Linked DNA regions of Homo sapiens. The protein of the gene in region 2 purifies or fractionates together with the protein of the main gene of each other region. This does not show direct contact. Each region holds a gene or a part of one and is shown on either strand. Other genes may lie near its edges. The genes, in order: CMTR1 and NCAN.

Region 1 (3,810 bases), on a different chromosome or scaffold from region 2:
TTGTGTTTTTTACAATAAAATAAAGAAAAAAGGACGCTGCCCTCTATTAAACACGCCCCAGGTGTCCCTGACTCAGTTCTACAGAAGTGATAGCTAAAGGACTCAGGATAAGAAATGTTTAGGAGTGTCTTCCAGACTTAAAGATGCTTCTCAAAATGCATGCCTGATTATGGGGTCAATTAAAAAAAAAAAAAGCCCAGGTCACCCCTTTACACTGCTGAAGTGCTGAAGCAGAAAGCCCTTGAGCTTCCAACTCTATAGCTGCCGCACAGCAACAGCTGCCTCATTAGCGCTATCAGACTCCCACATCTGCTCAGCCAGAGCAGCCCCTCCCTCACAGCCAGCCCCAAGCCTGTCATCTGTTGTTCCCTGCTGTGCACAGTGCTTTGGTGAGCCTAGGCATCTTTGGATATCATGCTGACATCCTGCCCACCTTCCTTCACTAGCCACACAGCTACTGCTTAAGAGGCCACCCAAAGAGTCCCAGAGGCTTTTCTCAACTCTAGCTATATGATCCTGGAGCAGCTGCCAAATTGTCTGTCCTTCCTCTAGAGTAAGTGGTGGCTCACTCCAGAAAGGAATGCCTGCATTGTCAGATTACTGGGTGAGAGCTTCTGCTGAACAAAGCTGCAATGGGCTTCCCTCTGTGCCTCAAGCAGCTGCCCATAGACAAGGCCTCTTGAACATTCACTTTAACCCAGCCCTGACAAGAGCCTCCTGTGGATTCCTCTGTGCTGCCGTCTTTGGTTAGGTGGCCATCTGTCAGCCTATGAGAGGCTTACAGGTGACCATGTATAGACAGCCTCCACCAGGAGCAACACCAAGATCACCCTGCTCCAGGCAAAGGTATCCACAACATCAGTCTCTACACAATTATCATTTAAAAAATGTATAAAAAGAATAAAAATGCATTCTCTACAATCTGAACTGTGAAATACCATCTTTGGGAGCAGCTAAAGAACCAGATAAAACAAACAATTCTCAAACCTCTAAAATAACAAATCCTTAATGCATCAGTCTATGGAAAAAAGGTAACCTACCCCATCAGCCATCAGAAAATGGACACCCTTGCGATCTGTGTTATCCAGGACAAAATTCCGAAAAGCAGAGATGTTCTCTGGGCGGGTGATATCTCCATCTCCATCAATCCCACCCTCACCTGTCAGAATACAAGAGTCATAGTGAGTTCATCTGCCCTATACATGTCAGGAGCTGGGACACGAGTGCTCTGGGTCAGTGAAGACGGGCATCAGGTGTCTCAAGAACTAGGGCCCATCCTGCAAGGCTCCCTTACAGTGATGGACCAGGAGGAACAACAGTACTCTGCTATAATGAAACACAGTCCCAAAGGAGTTGACCAGTCAAAAGTCATCAACTCGTGGAACTTTCTCTTTAAGACCCAAGTTGTGTTTAAGGCACCTACATTTAGGCATCAATTTTGTAATAAGGACTGTTCAGAAAGGACTTAGGATTTGCTGTCAAATTACAATCAACATAGAACAGAGGGACTGCTGTGGGTTGCTGAGCTGTCTGCAACCCAGTGCATTCTGCACCTGGCACAGAGGGCGAGAGATGGGCATTGGGTTTATATTTGTTAAAAACCCTGCCAGTTCTCAGCCAGAGATCAGGCAGTTTCATTATCTCCTGCCACCACAAAAGCAGAGTGTTCCTGAAAGGAGGAATTAATAGGGCCTTGATGAGAATCTGCTGAGGGAGTGTTTGACCTGTATTCTGCAGGCCCAGGGTAAAAAGGGATAGTCCAGAGGGAACCAAGATTCTGACATGAACTGTGAAGCCCAGGGTAAGAGACCTAGGAAAGAAAATATGGCATGTGGATAACAACTGCTTCTGACCTGAAGTCCCCATAGAGGGGCTGTCCCTCATACCTCCTAGTACCCTCCTCAATGTCCCTACCATAGTAGGGTTCGAAGAGTTCACTGGAAGCAGAGTAGAAGTCCTCCAGCTTGAAGTCATTAGGGCCCTTCAAAGTCATTCCAAAGCCCTTTGCATGCCACTTCTTCCTCCACAGCACATACTCTGAGAAGCCACCTGGGCCTGCGCAGACATCAGCAAAGTACAGAAGCTCAGCTTCCCGGTCCTTCACCAGTGGCTTCTGCAAAGGCAAGTGGAGGACAGGAGAGGAAGGAAAACAAGACAGCTCAATGGGCAACAGGAAGGAGAATGCAGGGAGAGTAAAATAAGCCTTTCGGCAAGTACAATCCAGAGCTCCCACCAGAGCTACAGCACCCAGGAAATGTATCTTCTGGTGATTAACACCCTTTAGTGTTGCCTCACCCACCCTCAAAATACCCACAATGCCTATCACATCACCAGGCCTAGCTCAGACTCCTCATAAAAACATCTTCATGGAGCCAGGCGCGGTGGCTCAAGCCTGTAATCCCAGCACTTTGGGAGGCCAGAGAGGCAGATAGCCTGAGGTCAGGGGTTTGAGACCAGCCTGGCCAACGTGGTAAAACCCTGTCTCTACTAAAAATACAAAAAATTAGCCAGGTGTGGTGGCGCACACCTGTAAACCCAGCTACTCGGGAGGCTGAGGCATGAGAATTGCTTGAACCCGGGAGGCAGAGGTTGCAGTGAGCTGAGATCGCGCCACTGCACTTGAGCCTGGGCGACAGACCGAGACCCTGTCTCAACAAAAACAACAAAAAACATTTATGGGTATCTGACTACATTTTTTATCTCTCAGAGTGTTTTCCTCACCATATCCTGCCTTTCAAGAGTCCTACTGAACAGAATATGCCCCACATATACAGATAGGGAAAAAGAGGCACCAAGATACAAAGTCACAAAGTAATCTGTTCACAGCCAGTCTGCAACAAAGCTAAATCAGGGTCCAGTTGGCCTAGCCACTAGACTCAGGTCTTCCTGTCCAACCAAAGGCTGGGGGGCTCTAACACCCTCTCCCAGCCACAGGAACCTTCCTTTTCCCATCATAGCCTCTGTCTTCCTTTCTCCCCTTCCTCCTTGGCTCTCCCAACCACCTTTTAAAAAATCCCAAATAACTTTTTATTTTGGAATAATTTTTGATTTACAGAAAAGTTGCCAAGATAGTACCCCTCACCCAGTTTCCAATTTTGTTAACACCTTACACCATGGTATGTTTGGCAAAACTAAGAAACCAACATTTGTACCTTACTATTAACTAAACTCTAGACTTCATTTAGATTTTCACTAATGTTCTTTTTCTGTTTGGGATCCAATCCAAGACACCACACTGCATTTGGTCTCTCTCCTTTTTGCACTCCCTTTTTTCTTCTCCTGCCCAGCGCTGGGTGTGGGGTTGGGGCAGGGCACAGTCAGAAGCTGACAAGACAGAGAGGGAAGGAAATACTGTTGTGCAGCAACAGCAGCTTCCAGGCAACGCTCGGAGCACCCAGCCAACTCAGGACTGACTAATCATCATTTGAATTTTGGCATAATTACATTTGTGGCCCCTTGAGTAGCTTTCGCTCTCTCTCCCCAGGTTTTTTTGTTTTTTTTTTTTTTGGCAACGAGGTCTCACTCAGCCCATGCTGGAGTACAGTGGTACAATAATAGCTTACTGAAACCTTGAACTCCTGAGCTCAGGCAATCCTCTTTCTTCAACCTCCTGAGTAGCTGGGACCCCTGACACACACCACCACGCTCAACAAATTTTTTTTTTTTTTTAGAGACAGGATCTTGGTGTATTGCCCAGGCTGGCCTCAAACTCCTGGACTGAAGCAATCCTCCCACTTCAGCCTCCCACAGTGTTGGAATTACAAGTGTAAGTCACCATGCCCAGCCTAGCTTTATCTCTTAACCTCACAT
Region 2 (4,251 bases):
CACCTGCCCCCAGCAGGGCCTTACGAGAGGACAAGGCCAGAGAATTCTCTTTCTCTCTCTCTCTCACACACACACACACACACACACACACACACACACACCCCGTTAACAGGTCAGACTACATCCAGATAGCTCTGCTTCTAATCCGGGACAAGCTGCTTCAATCTCTCTGTGCCTCAGTTTCCCCACCTGTAAAATGGAGATTATCCAGCAAGTACCACCTGCAGCTACTGTGAGGATGAAATGACCTAAGACTTGCAAAGTCCTAGAAATGTTAAATTTAAAAACAGCTCTTTAGACACAAAGCCTCATGTATACGCTAAAAATATACTGAGGTTGCCCAACATGGTGACAGACACAGTTTCAGGTGCACACCCCCCACACACACCCTCCCACTCCCTTCCACTCGCACCCTCACACACCCACACCCTTCTCTTAAAATACCTCCTCCCCAGGGCGGCCAGAGATGAGCATTTACACAGCTGTCTGGGGCCCGTGCCCTCATGAATAATGTACAAGCCTCATGCATATGCAAGCAGGGGCCTGCGGGGTGCTGGAGGAGGGGCAGCTCGGATCCATGTGAATGTGTGTGTGTGAGAGAGTGTGTGTGAGTGTGTGTGTGTAAGTGTGTGTGTGTCCCCTCCTTCACTTCACCCCCACCTCAAGTCTCCGTTAGCACTGAGTGAAGGTGAGTTTGCCAATGGGCATTTGTGAGTGTTTGTGACTGGGTGTGTGTCCGGGGTGTTGTGTCCTGGCAAGGGTGTGAAGGCGGTTGTGCCATGTGGTGGGTGCATGTTGTGTGTGTGAGCCTGCAGCAGCTCCGTGCACCGGGTGGAGCACATGGGACCTAGTGTGATCTGTGGATGTGTGTGAGTCTGAGTGACCCTCAGCAGGGGGCTGTGCGCACATGTGTGTGTTTCTGACCTGAGAGTCAGGGTGTATTAGTGTGCATGGGTGTGAATGTGGAACTCCGTGGAGGAGAAAGGGAGATGGGCTCAGTCATCATCCCGGGCTTCCCCTTGGGGATTTCAACCCCTGCTCAAGCTTTCCCTGTTAGCGCCCCAACTCTGAACACAGACCACGTCCCACACCCCCGTGCCAAGGGTGCACACTGCCAACCGCATGGAAAGAACCCTTGGCCCCTCCAGATACACAAGCGGGACACACACAGCCACGCACCCCAGACACAGACCCTGGGGAAACACACACTCACACAGATTCACAGTGACATTAACAAAGAGAGACAATATGGGCACTTACAAGACAGGCGGCGTGTCTTCTGCACAAAGACACACACCCACAGTCTCGGGCCCCCCCCCCCCCACATAAACCCCTTGATGAACGGAACAGCATCAGACATAGCTCCTCACTCACACGGCGATGCCAGCCCCTGGCACAAACCGAGATGGATAATTGTGGCCTTGGTGACCGATGGACACCCATCATTTTGCCACATGGTGATGTGGCCCTCGGCACAAGTTTTCTGACAAAGACACAACCACAGTCACATCAGACTCACAGGGGACCCTAGAACCCCTGGGCATACTCCCCCTCCCTGCCTGTCTGGGGTGGACACACACACAAAACCCCCATATCCTTGAGGGGGAACTTGATTTCAGAATGTCCATCAGCTATTGCGACGGCTGGGTTCTGGGGTCCCACAGTGCACCCACCCCTTCCTGCCTGCCCTGCCCCCACGTCCCCCGCTGGGGCCCAGAGCCAACCCTCTCCCTGGCCTGGCTGTTTCTCATTGATGCTGCCTGAGAGGAACAAAGCCCCACGCGTAGGGATGGGGGTCTCTCCTGCCCAGACAGGGCCCTTACTTCCCAGCCCCTTACTTCCCAGCCCCTGTGCCCCCAAACCAAGCCAGCGCTTCCACATGTGTCCATATGGACAGGTGGAACTAAAGGGGGTGGGGGTAGGGGTCTGTGTCATGCTGTAAGGACGTGGGAGGCTGTGAAGGTGCTGGGGGACAGCCCCCCCTCTGAGCTGGTATCCCTCACAGGTCCTGGGGATCCATAGCTGGGGGGTCTAGGGGACCCCCACCCAACATTCACCTGGGACACCCAGTGTGTTCCCTGGGATAAGGGACAACACCTCAACCCAAGGTCTAAGGGAATAACGGGGAACCACGTTGGGATGGGGACCCCCAGGACCTCCTCCCTGAGTCAGAACGTGGTGACCGGACCTGACCCAAAAGGACAGGGAGATGGCAGGGAGCCCCTTCCCCATGGCCGTTCGCTCTCAGCGCAGATACCCTTCCATTGGGCACAGGGTGATCTGGGGGCCCCCTCCCCACTGCAGTCCGGCCCGGAATCCTCCATTCAACCGCAAATTGGGAATCCCTACTTAAAATCCTGGGGTGTCTCGGCTGAGATACGGGGGTGCCCTGTTCCAGAGTCCCCCATTCGGCATCTGGGTGTCCTCTTCTTCCCTCCAAACTCGGGGGGCCCCTCCCCTAGCCCTGTTTCCCATTGCTCCCTCCTCAACCCTGAGACCCACCCCCAGCCCGGCCCCCTCCCCACCGGGGGGTAGTCTCCGGATTCCGCGGACAACCTTCCTCCCCAAATGTCTGTTCACCTAGCATTCCCAAGCCCCCTCCCAGTTCGCGCTCCCTCCTCAACCTAGGGCTCCCCTCCCCCGCTTCAGCCCCCTCCCCATTCTGGGGACTTCTCCCTGGTCTCAGGTCCTCTCCCTAATCCTGAGCTCTGTCTCTAATCCCGAAGTCTTCTCCCGCAACACGGCCCCCTCACGGATCCCCCACCTGGCTCCTAGCTCGGACGCATCCCGGGGCGGCCGCCGGGCACAAAGGACGCTGCGCTCCGACTCAGCCAGCTCCGCGCCGGGTCCAGCCCCTGCGCCCTGCGCTCCGCTGGCCCCAGCGCCGCCTCAGTGCTTATAAAGGGGCCGCGAGGGCTCTCTGCGCATGCGCCCCCGCCAGCCCGAGGCCTCTGGCTGCGCGAGGGAGGGGGCTCCCCTGCCTAAAATCCCCACCCCGCCCATTTTTTGGACACTCACCGCACCCAGGAGAAGATGGCATCGATTCTCCTCCCATTCTCTTTGCCCCAGGAACCGCGTTAAACGTCCCCATTATGCCCCAGGATGAGGCCGTCCCATTTTACAGGTGGGGAAACTGAGCCCCAAGGAGGCAAAGTCGCTTCCCAAGGTCACGCACAGAGGCAGAGCTGGGATTCGAACCTCGCCCTGCCTGATTCTCCAGGACTCACGTTCAAAGCAGTTTTGGCTACAATTACTGGTTTACCCCATTTACAGAGAGGAAACTGAGGCACGGACGAGACGGGGAGACTCCTTGTTCACACAGCTGGTAAGAGGCACGCAGGGTGGGAGTCCAGGTGTGTGACACCCCCGAGCTGTTTCCAGCAACTACAGCCAGATTGTATCATTCATTCATTCACCTTTGTCTGATCAGCATTTATGTAGCACACTCTATGGACTGGGTACTGCTGTTGACACATGAATAATTTTGCTTTATGCAGAGGCATAGGCATGTCCCTGCCATGAGACATGAGACCCCAATCTTTTTTTTTTTTTTTCAGACGGAGTCTTGCTCCGTCATCCAGGCTGGAGTACAGTGGCACGATGTTGGCTCACTGCAACCTCCACCTCCCAGGTTCAAGCGATTCTCCTGCCTCAGCCTCCTGAATAGCTGGGATTACAGGCACCTGCCACCACACCCAGTTAATTTTTGTATTTTTAGTAGAGATGTGGTTTCACCATGTCAGCTAGGCTGGTCTCGATCTCCTGGCCTCAAATGATCCGCCCGCCTCAGCATCCCAAAATGCTGGGATTACAGGCATGAGCCACCGCGCATGGCCTTGAATTACACATTTTAAGATGGTGAGTTTTATGTTATCTGTATTTGACCACCATTAAAAATATGGTAATGAGGGCTGGGTTCGGTGGCTCACACCTGTAATCCCAGCACTTTGGGAGGCCAAGGCGGGTGGATCACCTGAGGTCAGGAGTTTAAGACCAGCCTGGCCAACATGGTGAAACCCTTTCCCTATTAAAAATACAAAAATTAGCCAGGCGTGTTGGCAGACACCTGTAATCCCAGCTGCTCAGGAGGCTGAGGCAGGAGAATCGCTTGAACCCAGGAGGCAGAGGTTGCAGTGAGCTGAGACCATGCCATTGCACTCCAGCCTGAGTGACAGAGTGAGACTCCGTCTCAAAAAAAAAAAAAAAAAAAAAAAAGCCATGAGGAGGGAAATGTGCCCAGAGAGGGCAGGC

What was found.
Region 1: the proteins of NCAN (region 2) and CMTR1 fractionate together in Homo sapiens (co-fractionation; one large-scale study listed by BioGRID). This does not show direct contact.

What each region holds. Positions count from the first base shown.
Region 1 is NC_000006.12:37,456,915-37,460,724, reverse strand, and holds part of CMTR1 (cap-specific mRNA (nucleoside-2'-O-)-methyltransferase 1), read right to left. Parts: intron 2,114-3,810; coding exon 1,915-2,113; intron 1,160-1,914; coding exon 1,041-1,159; intron 1-1,040. UniProt on the Homo sapiens protein: S-adenosyl-L-methionine-dependent methyltransferase that mediates mRNA cap1 2'-O-ribose methylation to the 5'-cap structure of mRNAs.
Region 2 is NC_000019.10:19,210,578-19,214,828, reverse strand, and holds the start of NCAN (neurocan core protein precursor), read right to left. Parts: upstream 2,872-4,251; 5' UTR 2,765-2,871; intron 1-2,764. UniProt on the Homo sapiens protein: May modulate neuronal adhesion and neurite growth during development by binding to neural cell adhesion molecules (NG-CAM and N-CAM). Chondroitin sulfate proteoglycan; binds to hyaluronic acid.